2 separate regions of the Homo sapiens genome follow, and region 2 is linked to region 1. Evidence: fine-mapped expression QTL. Tissue or cell type: lung. Region 1 holds a variant in brackets; the other region holds the start of a gene. All regions are shown on one strand. Distances are from middle to middle.

Region 1 (8,101 bases):
CCAGCAGAATGTGGTACTCCTTGCATTTTCTCCCAGCAGAATATCGTAAGAGGAAGGCTGTTTCTTCAGTCGGGCCTTTGTCCACCTTGTGGTCAGGTGGTTAGGTAGGATGTTTCTCACGACCCGAACCACTGTGAAGTGTTTCACTTTGACTAAGGTCTGCAAAATAGCAGGGAGCTTACAAAATGGTGCAGTTTAGACTAACACTACCCAAGCCCTGCCAGTATCCAGGCCCCTGACACTTGGTCCAGATAAGAGAAACTGAGGCTCAGAAAGGAAAAGGGATCTGGTTATACAACTTCTAGCCCATCGTGCCTTCCTCTGCCTAGCTCCCAGGTGTGAGCCTGGAGCGGGGGTTGGGATCTGATCCTGGGGGAAGGAGAAGGAGGTGATGAAAACTGGGTAAAGCACACAGGCTTCTCCGATTTCACTGCAGGGTCAGTCCTCAAGGCCAGCTTGGGAGGGTCCTCAGAGAGCATGGGCTTCTGACACACAGGTGGCTCTCCCTCCATATCTCCACCAAGGCCATCTGATTTGCACCCTCCCGGGACACAGAGACCGCCACCTGCCATCGGTGACAGCTCAGTCATAAGACTGTTCTTTCTTGGGCTAAGCTGAAGCTGCTTCTGTAGAACATTCTCCCCACCCTCCACCCCACCCCCATCTCCATTCTTGCTCAGCAGCCCCAGGGAAGCTGTCTGCTCTTGGTGGCAAGGCTTCAGCCTCCCACAAGGCCACTGAGGGCCCTGACAGAGAGCAGGAAGACTGAGTAAGGCAGGGATTCTTTTGTTCCTCTAGAATGCAGGGGAGAAGAGACCAAACCACTACTTGCTTATTTCATATCAGTTCTGGCCTCTACAGATCTGTCTACTAGGTTGAACTCGTCTGTGTTGCTTTCTTTTCTTTTTTTTTTTTTTTTTTTTTTTTGGCAAGGTCTCACTCTGTTGCCCAGGCTGGATTGCAGTGGTGAAATCTCGGCTCACTACAACCTCTGCTTCCCGGGTTCAAGAGATTCTCCTGCCTCAGCTTCCCAAGTAGCTGGGACTATAGGCATGCACCATCACACCTGGCCTTTTTGTTTGTTTGTTTTTTGTTTTTTTCAGACAGAGTGTCGCTCTTGTTGCCCAGGCTGGGGTGCAGCGGCGTGATCTTGGCTCATTGCCACTTCTGCCTCCCAGGTTCAAGCAATTCTCCTGCCTCAGCCTCCCAAGTAGCTGGGATTACAGGCACCAGCCACCATGCCTGGCTAATTTTTGTATTTTTAGTAGAGATGGCCATGTTGGCTAGGCTGGTCTTGAACTCCTGGCCTCAAGTGATCCACCTGCCTCAGCCTCCCAAAGTGTTGGGATTACAGGCGTGAGCCACCATACCCGGCCTGTATTGCTTTCAGTAGCCAGTGTTGCTTGTTCTGATACCTTCCAGCTGTCTGTCATGCTGGTGTGCAGTGTCCCCACTGTCCTCTGTTGATCAGTCGGTCTGAGCTCCTGGCTTGGCTGGGTCTGTCCCATTTACAAGGCTCTGTATGACCTGTCCTGGGCTACATCAATCTGCACTGATCTCACCTGAGCATTGTTACCTGTTCTCACCTGGGCTGCATTACCTGTACTGTGGACTCCTCTGGAGGCAGCAGACAGTGGAGGCCTCCTTGTCCCTCCTTGTCCCTTGTCAGTGATGCTCCAGCCCCCAGCCGGCTTTCTCTTTGATCTCAGCCAGCCCAGCAGAAGCCTGAGGGGATGCCCTGGGCAGCCTGCTTGGTTGCCACCCAAATCTTTGCTCCAGGAACCCAAATCAGAGCCAACAAAGACAGGAGCCTTGACCAGAGAAGTCCTTCCTATCTATTCAAAGACAGGGCTGGGGCCGGGTGCGGTGGCTCACACCTGTCATCTCAGCACTCTGGGAAGCCAAGGTGGGTGGATCACTTGAGGTCAGGAGTTTGAGACCAGCCTGGCCAACATAGTGAAACCCCGTCTCTACTAAAAGTACAAAAAATTAGCCAGGCATGGTGGCACACGCCTGTAATCCCAGCTACTTGGGTGGCTAAGGCATGAGAATGGCTGGAACCCAGGAGGTGGAGGTTGCAGTGAGCCGAGATCACACCACTGCACTCCAGCCTGGACAACACAGCGAGATACTGTCTCAAAAACAAACAAACAAACAAACAAAGACAAGGCTGGACTCGAGGGCTTACAAAGTAGATGACCATGAGGCCCATGCAAATGTCAGCATGCACATAGTCTAGGCATAGTGAGAGCAGTGACCAAGGACCTCTCCCTCTGTAGTTCCCAGAGATGATGGTGGTAAAACAATAAGTAGTGAGCTCCCATCGGTGCAAACACAGGCGGGGTCTCAGCAAACAGTCCCAGGTGGCTGCTCTGTGCCAAGCCCTGTGCTGAGCACTAGGGATACAGATGTGGATTGGCCCAGTCTCTGCCCTTGGACAGCCCTCAGTCAGCCAAGGAGCAACAGTCATGCTAGATTGCGAGTAGTAGCCACAGGGTGACAGCAGAGGCACGTCCCCCAGGGAGTCCTTCCAGGCAGTCAGGGAAGGCTTCACGGAGGAGGTGATGCTTGAGCAGTCTTGCAGGAAGGGTAGATGAGGAAGAACCTTCCAGGCATGAGGAACAGCATGGGTCAGTGCATTCTTGGGTGGAGTGGAATGTGGTGTGGAGCTGGACAGGGATAGCGTAGGACTGGGCACATTGCCAGCTAAGCCACCAGGGCTTTCTCCTGTGGTCTGCAGGCTCGCCCTCTCTGCCTCACCGGCCCCGGACACCCCATCTTGGCCCTGGAAACTTTGCCAGCCCAGCCACCTCCATTGCCCAGCACAGACTGAGACGGCAGGGAAAGGGTCAGCCCGAGTCCTGCCCAGGCATGGCTGGACCCAGCCCTAGACTGAAAAGGGGAGGGCAGAAGAGGGACCACAAGGGCTATGGTCAAAACACAGAGCTGCAGTGCCCGCACCCTTGCAAGCCAGGCTGCCTGCCCCTCCAGGAACCAGCCCTCCCACCCCCAGCCAGCCCCAGCCTTGGGGCTCTGGCCAAGATTTTCCTCCAGCTCCAGCAGGGGCAGCAGGAAGCTCCAGCTGCTGAATTATTGAAAGCAAGGCTTTCAGCAGTTCCCCTCCCCCCACCGCGTCTTCTGGAGGGTTGGGTAACAAACAGCCGTGCCAGCACCAGCGCCTCTCCAGAGAGACTCCAAGGAGTCATGGAGGAAGCTCACTGGGCTCTGCCCGCTCCCTGAGCCACCTCCTCCCAGGCCTCTCCCTGCAGTGTCTTCTTACCCGTCTTTTTTTTTTTTTTTTTTCCAGACAAGGTCTCACTTTGTTGCCCAGGCTGGAGTGCAGTGGCGCAATCTCAGTTCACCGCAACCTCCGCCTCCTGGGTACAAGCGATTCTCCTGCCTCAGCCTCCCAAGTAGCTGGGTTCACAGGTGCCCGCCACCACACCCAGTTAATTTTTGTATTTTTAGTAAAAGAGTTTTGCCATGTTGGCCAGGCTGGTCTCGAACTCCTGACCTCAGGTGATCCACCCGCCTCAGCCTCCCAAATTGCTGGGATTACAGGTTTGAGCCACTGGGCCTGCCCTCCTCTTTTTTTTTTTTTTTTTTTTTGAGACGGAGTCTCGCTCTGTCGCCCAGGCTGGAGTGCAGTGGCATGATCTCAGCTCACTGCAAGCTCTGCCTCCCAGGTTCACACCATTCTCCTGCCTCAGCCTCCCTACTAGCTGGGACTACAGGCGCCCACCACCACGCCCAGCTAATTTTTCATATTTTTAGTAGAGACGGGGTTTCACCGTATTAGCCAGAATGGTCTCGATTTCCTGACCTTGTGATCCACCCGCCTCGGCCCCCCAAAGTGCTGGGATTACAGGCGTGAGCCACCGCGCCCCGCACCTGCCCTCTTCTTACCCGTCTCTACTGGTCTCTACTGGTCTGTGTGGGTTTGTATCTGTGAAAAGTACCATGATTGGGCTATGAGTGTTTGTAATGATTTAAAATGGTAATTATTGACCTGATCTGTTCTGATTTATATGGATCTATATTTCCTCCTGGTCTAACTCATGCCTGTAATGGTTTAGACTGATTGGCATAGTTCATGGCTGATAACAGCTAACACTTAATGCATAGAGCTTATCGCCTACCCAGGCACTGTACACACGTTATTCCTTTACTCCTTACCCTGAGGTGCGGGTACTTATATTAACCCCATTTTACAGATAAGAAAGAGGTTAAGTCACTACGCACACATAGTAAGTGATTTGAACCCATCTGCTACTGGCTGATCGGCACGGGTCTGTCTTGGTTCATGTGGACTGGGTTATCAGTTATCCTTTAAGGGCCTGAGGGCATCAGGTTGCAAGAGAGAGTTGAGCACAGTGGCTCACACCTGCAATCCCAGAGCTTTGGGAGGCCAAGGCAGGAGGGTTGCTTGAGTCCAGGAGTTAGAGACAAACTAGTGAGACCCTGTCTCTACAAAACTTCTAAAAACTAGCTGGACATGGTTGTATGCACCTGTGTGTAGTAGTGGCCAGCTACTTGGGAGGCTGAGGTGGGAGGATCACTTGAGCCCAAGAGGTAGAGGCTGCAGTGAGCCATAATTGTACCACTACACTCCAGCCTGGGTGATAGGAGACCCCGTCTCAAAAAAAAAAAAAAAAAAAAGTTGCAAGAGAGATCTTTCCAAAATGCAAATCTGACCTCCCCAGCTCAATACCCTTCACTGGCTCCCTATTGCCTGCAGGGTGTGGTCCTAGGTCCTCAGCCTGAGTCTGAAGGCCC[TG/T]GGGACCTGGCCCTCCCTCCCCTCCTGGCTTAGTGGGCTCAGCAAGACAAGCCCATGTTTTGTTTTGTTTTTTTAATTTTTTTAATTTTTTGAGATGGAGTCTCCCTCTGTCTCTCAGGCTGGAGTGCAGTGGCGTGATCTTGACTCACTGAAACCTCTGCCTCCTGGGTTCAAGCAATCCTCCTGCCTCAGCCTCCCAAGTAGCTGGGATTACAGGCACCCGCCACCATGCCTGGCTAATTTTTGTATTTTTAGTGGAGACAGGCCAGGCTGACCAGGCTGGTCTCGAACTCCTGACCTCCAATGATTCTCCTGGCTCAGCCTCCCAAAGTGCTGGAATTACAGGATTGAGCCACCGCGCCCAGCTTCAAGTCCATGCTTTTCCCTCTTTCCTCTCCATGCCTTCTTCCTGCTCACCCCCACACCCTGACCAGGACATCCTTCTCCTCCTCCTTTGTCCCGCCAACTCCTACTTATGCTTCAAGATCTCTCCTCCAGGGAGACCTCCTAGCTATGCTCCTCTCCTGACGCACCCCAGCTGTTAGATGTCTCTGCCATGCATCCATCATCCCCAGCATGATAAGCACCAGTGCTTCTCCTTCTGCATTTCTCTCGTGTCCTCTGGTGAACCCCAGAGTAGCCACTCACAAATAGCTGTGACCTGAATGAATGACCCAACCCTGAAGTTGATGGGGTGTCTCTTGGTCCTCTGGTCCTTACCCCCCCAGCCCCACGCTCTTGGGCAGTGAGCACAGGGGAAGCTTTCAATATAAAGTGTTCAAGGCTGGAGGTCTGCAGAAGGGTCCTTACACAGGGAAGGGAAGGGTCAGCAGGAGAGTGCTCCAGGGAATATGTCCCTGTCATGGCTGCACCTGGCTTCAATGCCAGGATTTGGAGTGGGGACACACCTAGATTCCTTGGACATGATGCAGATGGCTTTTCTTTTCCAGCTTGATAAAGTATCTTGACAAACGATTGTTGCACACACTTATTTTTAACAAGACCCAGAATGAGTTTCACAACTTAAGGACCTGGTTTCATGGGTATTTATCAGTTCTGTCTCGTTTCTGACAGTTGGAAAGAATCTTTTTCCTCAGGAGGCACATCCTTGCCCACCTGCTGTCACCACACTGGGCTTTTTCTCTGGAAGGTCTCATCCTGCGTTTGCAGCCACCACCTTCACAGGAATGCAGTTTCCTGGATCATAAATTCCATTCCACTGTAGCCCTCTTAGCCAAGGGTCCCTGGATCTTAACATGCCCTTGGCTTTTGCCTTCCCTTCCCTTCCCTTCCCTTCCCTTCCCTTCCCTTCCCTTCCCTTCCCTTCCCTTCCCTTCCCTTCCCTCCCCACCCCTTCCCTCCCCTCCCCCAACTTGCCCCCCTCCCCCTCTCCCTTCTCTTCCCTTCCCTCTTTTTTTTTTGACAGAGCATCCCCTCCCCTCCCCCCAATTCCCCCTCCCCTGCCCCCACTTCCCCTCTCCCCTGCCCCCACTTCCCCTCTCTCCCTCTCCCTTCTCTTCCCTTCCCTCTTTTTTTTTTTTTTTTTTTTTGAGACAGAGTCTTGGTCTGTCCCCCAGGATGGAGTGCAGTGACACGATCACAGCTCACTGCAAGCTCCGCTCCTGGGTTCAAGCGATTCCCCTGCCACAGCCTCCTGAGTAGCTGGGAGTACAGGCGCACACTGCCAGTCCTGGCTAATTTTTTGTATTTTAGTAGAGACCGGGTTTCACCATGTTGCCCAGGCTGGTCTCAAACTCCTGAGCTCAGGCAATCTGCCCACCTTGGCCTCCCAAAATGCTAGGATTACAGGCATGAGCCACCGCGCCCGGCCAAAGACACATCTTTCAAAGGCACATGTCTAACATCATTCTCTTCATGAAACCTTCCCTGACCATCCTAGGCAAAGGTAGAGCCTCCCTGGTCTCTTTTTTGCTCCTGCAGGACTGGGTGGGTGGGTGGGAGAATGGCATCAGAATCTCTTCATAACAAGCCTGTTACCGCAAGAAAGGATGAATGAATGATCCCACTAAGCTACAAGCTACAAGACTAGGGAATATTGTCTCCGTCGAGGTATTGCTCCTCACAAGAGGGTATTAGCTACGAGGGTCTGCCCACAGACCCTGACCCAAATGATGAATAAAACGTACACTGATACACAGAGATTCTGTTTTGCCAGTCCTGCTGAGTGACCGCCTACACACCAAGAGAGGTTTGTCACTGTGGCCGCCCCGATCAGCTAGGGAGACTCACATTTATTCATTAAGATTAGTTAACAAAAGCTTGAGTCAGCGCCATTAGAGGTAATTGACATTGAGGACTTCCCGAGTAAAAAGCACACATCAAAGGCTCGTCTTGAGACCACATGAGTAAACAAGTTAACTAGATAACTTCCCCACATCCCGTTATTTACTACTCTAATCTATTTAACTGAAGGTAATGGGACCAGCCCACCTTCGCCCCGGTCTATTACCGAAGTCATGTGAAAACCCTCAGGCCTTCCGAAAGGGTTTTGTGGCTATCATAACTAATATTTTTTCCACCAGCCTGACCGAATCCCAACACTCCATTTTACAGATGAGGAAACTGAGGCTCGGAGAAGTTTAATGACTTTTCCTGATCACCCAGGCAGAAGTAGTGGAGCCAGAATTTAAGCTAAAGTCTTCTGACTCCAAGTCCTTGTCCTGGTCTAACACTCTTTTTCCTGGCCCCAGTAGAAGACAGCAGAAAGATCTTAGAAGTAAGAAGGTGGTTAAATTGTGTGACCACAGACGAAGTGCTCAAGTGCTTACTTGAAGCTGTGGGAATCTGTACCTTTGAGCGTGTGGAGGCTCTGAGTCCTGACATTACCTCTGGGGAGGCATGCCTCTGGCTGGCAAGGCCAGGAAAAAAAAGCCCCTAGAGGAACGGTGCTGCCCCCCTCCCCGCCCCCCCCGCCCCTTTCCCCGGCAAAAGAGGCTTCTCAGCCCCGGCAGCAAATGGGGCCCCCTGAACTGGTGATGGGGGTGCTGTCCGTGGTGCTGGAGGACTGCGACGCTGCCAGAGACAAGGGGAGCAGGGAGGAGTTTGCTCACTCCTGTAATCCCAGTGCTCTGGGAAGCCAAGGCGGGGGATCACTTGAGGCCAAGAGTTTGAGACCAGCCTGGGCAACAACGTGAGACCCTGTCTCTACAATAATAATAATAATAATTAATCTCCAGTGCCTTTTACGAGACATTCATTGCATACTAGGTACTGTGAGGGCATTTCCCATGCATTAGTCCTTTACAACAAACCTATGAGGAAGATGCTATTATTAAATAGTTTCATTTTACAGGCAAGGAAACT
Region 2 (8,090 bases), 170 kb before region 1:
CTCTCTTATAACCCCCTCCACCAACACAGGATGCCTCAGAAGCCATAGTTGGCCTGGGCTGGGGTGGGATGGAAGAGGAAACAAAATAAACAGAAGTCAACTACTGTCCTCCTCAAATGTGGGAGCCCAAAGAAAGCTTGAGAGGGGAAGAGAAGCAGCTTTACCTTTGAATTAAATTCCTAGTTTTGATTATTAACATGAACTGGACAGTAAGTCTGTCCTAGTAACCAGACACAATCCAAGGGCAAGCAAAGATTTAAAGACAGAAAGCTGCTGCATGATTGAATTCTACTTCTTGACTGTGGAAACCCTGCTTGTTTAATATAAGTTTCACTTGCAAAACACCAAGTAAAATCAATGCCTACCACACAGTGCTTCATACAGCAGCCAATAAGACTGTTGTTAATTACCTTGGTATTTCCTTAGAGAGAGGCAGATAGGAGCTGAGTGTGAGGCTTTTTATGTTTTTTTCCTTTGAGATAAGGTCTCATTCTGTCACCCAGACTGGGGTGCAGTGGTGCAAACACAGCTCACTGCAGCCTCAAACTCCCAGGCTCAATTCTCCTGCCTTAGCTTCCTGAGTAACTGGGACCACTGGCACATACCACCATGCTTGGCTAATTTTTATTATTTGTAGACAGGGTCTCCTGTGTTGCCCAGGCTGGTATTGAACTCCTGGGCTCAAGCGATCCTCCCACCTTGGCCTTCCAGAGGGGTGGAATTACAGGCATGAGCCACTGCACTGGGCCAAATGTGAGGCTTTTCTAGCAGTCAAGTTGTTTGGGATGGCCCAAGTAGAAGGCTTGGGAGGTAGCGAGTTCCTCTTCTGTGGAGATGAGGACTTGGGAGGGATGTGGAGGAAACTGAATTCCAGATGTGGGAGGGAGCCTGACAATCTGTGATTCCAGTTTATTGCTCATGGTCTCAACTCTCCCCCTCTACAGAGGTGACTTCCGCCCTGGCCTGAGTTTCAATCCCACAGTTCCTTTTTTCCCCCCTTAAATGAGACATATCTTGCTCTGTCACCCATGTCAGAATGCAGTGGCACAATCATGGCTCACTACAGCCTTGACCTCCCCCGATCGCCTGAGCTCAAGCGATTGTTTCATGTCAGCCTCTTGGGTAGCTGGGACTACAAGCACACACCATCACGCCCAGAGAATTTTCGTACTTTTTGTAGAGATGGGGTTTTGCCATGTTACCCAGGCTGGTCCTGAATTCCTGAGCTCAAGTGATCGTCCGCCTTGGCTGCTCAAAGTGTTGGGATTACAGGCATGAACACGGCCCATACCACTGAAAGGTCTATATGGACAACTCAGCATAACTCCCAATTAAGCCCATCTAAAACGGAACTCTTTATTTTTTCTCCTCTCCTTTGGTATAACCTCCTTTATTTTTCTCCTCTCCTTTGTATAACCCGACTTCCCTCTTTATGTATTTTCCACACCTCTTTCTTTCACTCCTCAAACCCAGATGAGCACAGACTGTTACCCATTCTTCCCATGAGACTTCTCCCACACTGGCCCTACCCACTCCATTTCTATGGCCACCACCGTAATTCAGACCTTTGTCATCCATAAAATAGATTCCTAAACAATCTCCCTGAATAGATTCCTAAACAATCTCCATTTTTTTTTTCCTGGGAATTCTTAGCATACAAGGTCAGTCTAATCTTCCTCAAACACAGTTCTGGCAGTGTCACAAAAGCCTGATTGGCCAGGTGCAGTGGCTCACGCCTATAATCCCAGCACTTTGAGAGGCTGACTCGGGCAGATCACTTGAGGTTAGGAGTTCTAGACCAGCCTGGCCAACATGACAAATCCCTGTCTCTGCTAAAAATACAAAAATTAGCCAGGTGTGGTGGTGCACACCTGTAATCCCAGCTACTTGGGAGGCTGAGGCAGGAGAACTGCGTGAACCCGGAGGTGGAGGTTGCAGTGAGCCGAGATCGCGCCACTGCACTGCAGCCTGGGCAACAGCGTGAGGCTCCATCTCAAATAAATAAACAACCTTTGATAAACACTTGCTTCCCAAGAAATGAAATACAAACTTCTCAGCTAACATTCATGGGACCGGCACAATCTAGTTTTTCCCAACCTGCTGTTTCCAGCTGTACCTAAAACCACTCAACTCTCCACAAATTCACTGAGGCCCTTTCAGCCCAGTCGCATGTTGGACAAAAAAAACAGAAGAAAGACTTAGTACCTGGCAAGACTTAATACCTGGCTCTGAGGTGCTCTCAGTTACAAGACAGAGGAGTAAATAATTACCAGAAGATGCAGTCAGTGATAAGATAAACAAAGGACACTGCTTGCCCTAATGTCCCCACTCCAAAATAAATGATCTATTCACTGTCCCCTGAATACTGGCCTATGCTTATTTTTTCCCGCTAGGATTTTATTTGGCCTTTTTTCTCCTCCTTTCCTGTCTAAACATTTCCCATTGTTAAATGCTCAGGCCCTAGTGCCCCTCCTTTGAGAATTCTGATTCCAAGGCAAGGGATCTTTCCCTCCTCTGGAGTTGAATGTTCCATTGAGAAACACCTACTCTTCCAGCATGTCTCAGCTTATCTGCTGTGTGTGTGTGTGTGTGTGTGTGTGTGTGTGTGTGTGTGTGTGTGTGTGTGTGTGTGTGTGTGTGCGCGCGCGCGCGCGCGCGCTTTTGAGCCGGAGTTTAGCTCTTATCACCCAGGATGGAGTACAATGGCACAATCTTGGCTCACAGCAACCTCCACCTCCTGGGTTCAAGGGATTCTCCTGCCTCAGCCTCCTGAGTAGCTGGGACTACAGGCACACGCCACCATGCCCAGCCAATTTTTGTATATTTAGTAGAGATGGGGTTTCGCCACATTAGCCAGTCTGGTCTCAAACTCCTGACCTCAGGTGATCTGCCCGCCTTGACCTCCCAAAGTGCTGGGATTACAGGCATAAGCCACCACACCCGGCTTTTTTTTTTTTTTTTTTTGAGACAGAGTCTTTCTCCGTCGCCCAAGCTGGAGTACAGTGGGGTTATCTCGGCTCACTGCAACCTCCCTCCACCTCCCGGGTTCAAGCGATTCTCCTGCCTCAGCCTCCGGAGTAGTTGGGGCTACAGGTGTACACCACCACGCTGGGCTAATTTTTGTATTTTTAGTAGAGATGGGGTTTCACCATGTTAGCCAGGCTGGTCATGAACTCCTGGCCTCAAGTGATCGGCCCGCCTCAGCCTCCCAGAGTGCTGGGATTACAGGCATGAGCCACCTTGCCTGGGGGTGTTGTTTAATTTTAAAAATATGTATCAGGCCGGGCGCGGTGGCTCACGCCTGTAATCTCAGCACTTTGGGAGGCCGAGGCGGGTGGATCACGAGGTCAGGAGTTCGAGACCAGCCTGACCAACGTGGTGAAACCCCGTCTCTACTAAAAAAAAAATACAAAAAATTAGCCAGGTGTAGTGGTGCGCTAATCCCAGCTACTCAGGAGAATGAGGCAGGAGAACCACTTGAACCTGACAGGCAGAGGTTGCAGTGAGCCAAGATCGCGCCACTGCACTCCAGCCTGGGCTAGAGAGACTCCGTCTCAAAAAAATAAATAAATTCATACATTTAAGTAATAAACTCATTGTGAGCAAGGAATTCTACTCGACTTTCTGTCTGCGTAAACTCTACAAATCCACTTGGCCTCAGCCACAGTGTCTTTATTCGTAAAGCAGAAACAGTGGGACCGTCAGAGCACTGCCGGGCAGGCGAGAGAAGACAGGAACTGTATGACCACGGAAGTTGTTGTCCCTACAACCTATTTGCTCATCTGGAACACAGAATAGTGGTCCTCTAAAGCTTGCAGGGCTGGAGGTCGCCATTATCAGCAGTGGTGTCACTAAACCTGAACCCAAGGGTCTCTGCAACTTGGGAAACGACGGCCCGGATCTGAGGAGATGGCCCCTTCCTCCCACCCCGCCTAAGGACTCTCAGCCTCCCTGACCCTACCTTTCCGGAGCTCAGAGTCCCCTCTGGCCTCCAAGGGCAGAAGGAATGGGTTTGGCTGAGGTCGGGGGCTCGGGTCTGGGACGCGCTCCACCTCCCCGGCTGCGCGACTATGGCCAGGCTCCCTGTCGGAGCCTCTGCCTGGGGCCCCACCTGGAAAAATGGCTCCTCTAAGGCGCTTCCAGCCTAAAGCCCGTCCTCTTCCACCTCTTGGGTGCAGACTGGCCCTCCCACTCCGACCGCAGGTCCCCCACCGGCCACACAGACGGCTACGCTAGAACCCAGCCAAACACCGGGGTTGCCAGGATGGTCCCACAGCTTTCCTTTCCGACTCCCGGAAGTGGCCGTGATCTCACGAGATCCCGGAGGCGAGCGCGACCGGAAGTCCGGTCACTCTCGCGAGGCCCCAGAGAGCAGGCGCTGGGCAGTGTGGAGGTCGTTGGAGTCACTTCCCCGTCACCAGCTCCTGTGCCTGCCAGTCGGTGCCCCTCCCGCTCCAGCCATGCTCTCCGCCCTCGCCCGGCCTGCCAGCGCTGCTCTCCGCCGCAGCTTCAGCACCTCGGCCCAGGTAGGCCAGACGAGGGGCGGCCTGCAGGCGGAGGCCCCCCGGCCCGGGCCACGTGCGTCCCCGGTTCGCGGGCAGCTCTGACCCTCTCCAGGCCAGCCTGGACCGCAGGGATGCCCGGCACTGGCTGGAGACTGTGGCGCCCGGGGCAGGCCCTGACACTGGCCTGGAGGTGCGGGGGAGAAAGCCGGGGAAAAGGGGGCGAGGTAGTCCCGCTCCAGGGCCGGTCCATTTGTCAGGGTTCCCCCAGGTCTCCCAGATTTCCCAGAGGACCTGCTCTTGGCTTGCACGCCTTCAAGGTTGGGAAACCAGGGCTCTGCATCTGAAAGTAAACTTACGTTTTTTTCTGCAGCGTTCCATTGCTTTGACGTAGCTAATCTCCTTGCAGCATCCGTGTGAGTTGTGCGTGAATAAAAGAAATCGTATACTTCCTAATTCCATAGTATGGACAAACCGAGGCTAGAGAACTGGGCCAGGGTTACAGTCATTTGGCCAGAGGATTAGAATTCAGCGCTTCTGACCTGAAGACGGCTTCCTCTTAACCTTTTTGGAGGATCTCTCCTGCTGTGGGCGGACTGAGCCTGCCGCCAGGTGTCTTAACAGTGCTTGACTTGGCCCGCGACCACTTAAGCCTAGGAGCCTAGGCTATTTTTAGCCATCTTCTAGAATGGTGGTTCTTAAACTCTGCAGTGTGTCAGAATCACCAGAAAGCTAATAAAAAACAGACGTCTGGGTTCATTGAAGAAGCTTAAGACTGCGGGGGGGGGGGGGGGGGTCCGCATTTTTACCAGGTGAATCTAATTAAACCTAATTTTGAGAACCCAGGAGGTGCTCGCATTGCCTTTTAATTACGACGCCCAAGAGGGAGGTAATTTTAAAGGGGAATCCAAATTTATCATCGAAGTTCTCGAGTTTCCTGTACATCCAGTTCATTTGAAAAATAAATACAAATGCTCCTGGATTGATGGCTACTTCCCATACCCATCGCAAGTTGGTAATATCCTAAGTCAAAAGGCGAGTTTAACTTTGTGTATTTTCAACTTGCAATGGGTTCCCACAGGCAACCCCATTGTAAGTTGAATGTACCAAATGCTTTTGCGCTGCGGTGAAGTGGGGGCCCAGCTGTATACAGATAAGTACATTAAGTACCTGTGCTTGCCAACAACTATGCTGGGTGCTGCAGGGGATACCAAGATAAGTGAGAAGTGACACTTGATATGGGACAGGAATGAGTAAACTTAGGACAGGTGGAAGCGATGAAGGTCTTAGGGAATGAGTAAACTTAGGACAGGTGGAGGCGATGAAGGTCTTAGGGAATGAGTAAACAGGACAGGAGGGATGAGGTGTGGGGGAGGGGCAGCCAACCAAAGAGAGGACAGGGGTGTCCAGGGAGAGGTTGAGTTTTGGTAGGACCTTCAGATATCCGACATATTTATTGAGCTAGGTACTGGAAATACAGCGGTGAACAAAACACAGAAGTCCCTGCTCTCACGGAAATTACTAGATATTTTACTTATTGCCCCACTCATTATAAAGTATCTTAAAATAGTGATGAACATGCAAGAAAAATGGGGATTGTAGGGTGCTTGTGTTAGGGAAGAGGGTACCAATTTTATTTACTTTTTTTGATGCAGTGCCTCGCCCTGTCGACAGGCTGGAGTGCAGTGGCGTGATCTCGGTTCACTGCAGCCTCCACCTCCCAGGTTGGAGCGATTCTCCTGCCTCAGCCTCCCGAATAGCTGGGACTACAGGCGCGCACCACCGTGCCCAGCTAATTTTTGTGTTTTTAGTAGAGATGGGGTTTCACCATGTTGGCCAGGATGGACCTGACAGAGTCCCACTCTGTTGCCCAGGATGGAGTGCAGTGGCGCCATCTTGGCTCACTGCAACCAACTCTTGGGCTCAAGCTATCCTCCTGCCTCATCCTCCCGAGTAGGTGGGAATCACAGGCAAGGGCTACGACAGCTGGGTAATTTTTGTAGTTTTAGTAGAGATGGGGTTTCACCATGTTGGCCAGGCTGGTCTCAAACTCCTGGCCTTAAGTGATCCACCCTCCTTGGCCTCCCAAAGTGCTGGGATTACAGGCGTGAGCCACCACTCCCAGCCGAGGGTAGCAGTTTTACATCAGCCAGGGTAGGCCTCACGCAGAGTGAGATGTTTGAGTAAAGTCTGAAGGAAGCAGAGATCACATCATATGGAAAGAGTATTGCAGGTAAGGGATATGTCTCAGGATGTAGCTGAGAGCCCTTGGAGAAGCATGGGGCATGCCTTGAAGGTTTGAGAAAATGAGGCTAGGGTAGTTCCAGAGAAGGCAGTGGAGGTAACAGAACAGGCCTTGTAAAACTTTGGTATTTTCTCAGAAATGGGGCGGCCAGTTGAGGGTTTTCAGCTGCGTAATGACTTGCTCTTCCTTCCATTTTAACAAGATGGTCTTAGGAGTGAGAGAAAGGTAGGTTAGGAGTTCATTGTGGTTATCTAGGTGCAGGTGGTAAGAAATGATTGAATTCTGGGTATTCATTGATGGTACCAGAAGGATTTGCTGATGTGTGATTAGATAAGGGGTCGGGGATGACACCAAGGTTTTGGGCCTTGGAGTTGGGCTGAAATAGGCAAGACTTATAGAAGAGAGTGGGTTTAACCAGGGAGAAGATATCAGGAGTTCAGTTTTTATTTATTTACTGAGAGTCTCGCTCTGTTGCCCAGGCTGGAGTACAGTGGCGTGATCTCGGCTCACTGCAGCCTCCGCCTCCTGGGTTCAAGTGGTTCTCTCACCTCAGCCTCCTGAGTAGCTGGGATTACAGGTGCTGCCACCACGCCCAACTAATTTTTTTTTGTATTTTCAGTAGAGATGGGGTTTCGCCATGTTGGCCAGGCTGGTCTCAAACTCCTGACCTCAGGTGATCCACCTGTCTTGGCCTCCCAAGGTACTGGGATTATAGACGTGAGCCACCACACCCGGCCAGGATCTCAGTTTTTCATATGTTCAATTTAAAATGCCTGTTGGGCATACAAGCGACATTGTTGAGAAGGCAGCTGATGAAAGCAGAAAGAAAGATGGGCTTGAGCCCATGGTGCAGTGGTCTCCAGACTTTGGATTTTTTTTTTTTTTTTTTTTGAGACGGAGTTCCGCTCTTGTTGCCCAGGCTGGAGTGCAATGGTGCGATCTCAGCTCACCGCAACCTCCGCCTCCCAGGTTCAAGCCATTCTCCTGCCTCAGCCTTCCGAGTAGCTGGGATTACAGGCATGCGCCACCATGCCTGGCTAATTTTGTATTTTTAGTAGAGACAGGGTTTCTCCATGTTGGTCAGGCTGGTCTCAAACTCCCGACCTCAGGTGATGCGCCCATCTCAGCCTCCCAAAGTGCTAGGATTAAACGCGTGAGCCACCACGCCTAGCTGGATCCTGTATCTTTAACAGTAAAAGCGTAGGAAGCACATAGCCCCAATGTATTTACTTATAGGTATATGTACTAATATATACATTACAATATAAACTCAAGTAGAAATTTTAAAACAAACCATAACACGTTATAAAGTGTTAAAACTTATAAATGAAGGCAGTGTTAAC

What was found. PIP is the estimated chance that this variant, and not a neighbour inherited with it, causes the effect.
Region 2: STYXL1 starts here. The variant in region 1 is fine-mapped to the expression of STYXL1 in lung (TOPMed, PIP 0.91).

What each region holds. Positions count from the first base shown.
Region 1 is chr7:76,217,772-76,225,872 of GRCh38, forward strand. All of the region lies in intron 1 of SRRM3 (serine/arginine repetitive matrix 3), which reads left to right. Among named protein-coding and RNA genes, the nearest start is that of SRRM3, 20 kb to the left of the region's middle. RefSeq lists enhancers at 5,019-5,519, 6,858-7,362 and a silencer at 7,707-7,907. The variant TG/T (reference allele first, on the strand shown) is at 4,777.
Region 2 is chr7:76,043,701-76,051,790 of GRCh38, forward strand. It overlaps STYXL1 (serine/threonine/tyrosine interacting like 1), which reads right to left and starts at 4,300. Exons shown (of 9, transcript NM_001317785.2): 1 at 3,962-4,300. MDH2 (malate dehydrogenase 2) reads left to right here and starts at 4,406. Exons shown (of 9, transcript NM_005918.4): 1 at 4,406-4,526. The coding sequence starts at 4,461. RefSeq lists enhancers at 3,773-4,555, 4,001-4,090, 4,201-4,280, 4,556-5,337 and a silencer at 4,531-4,690.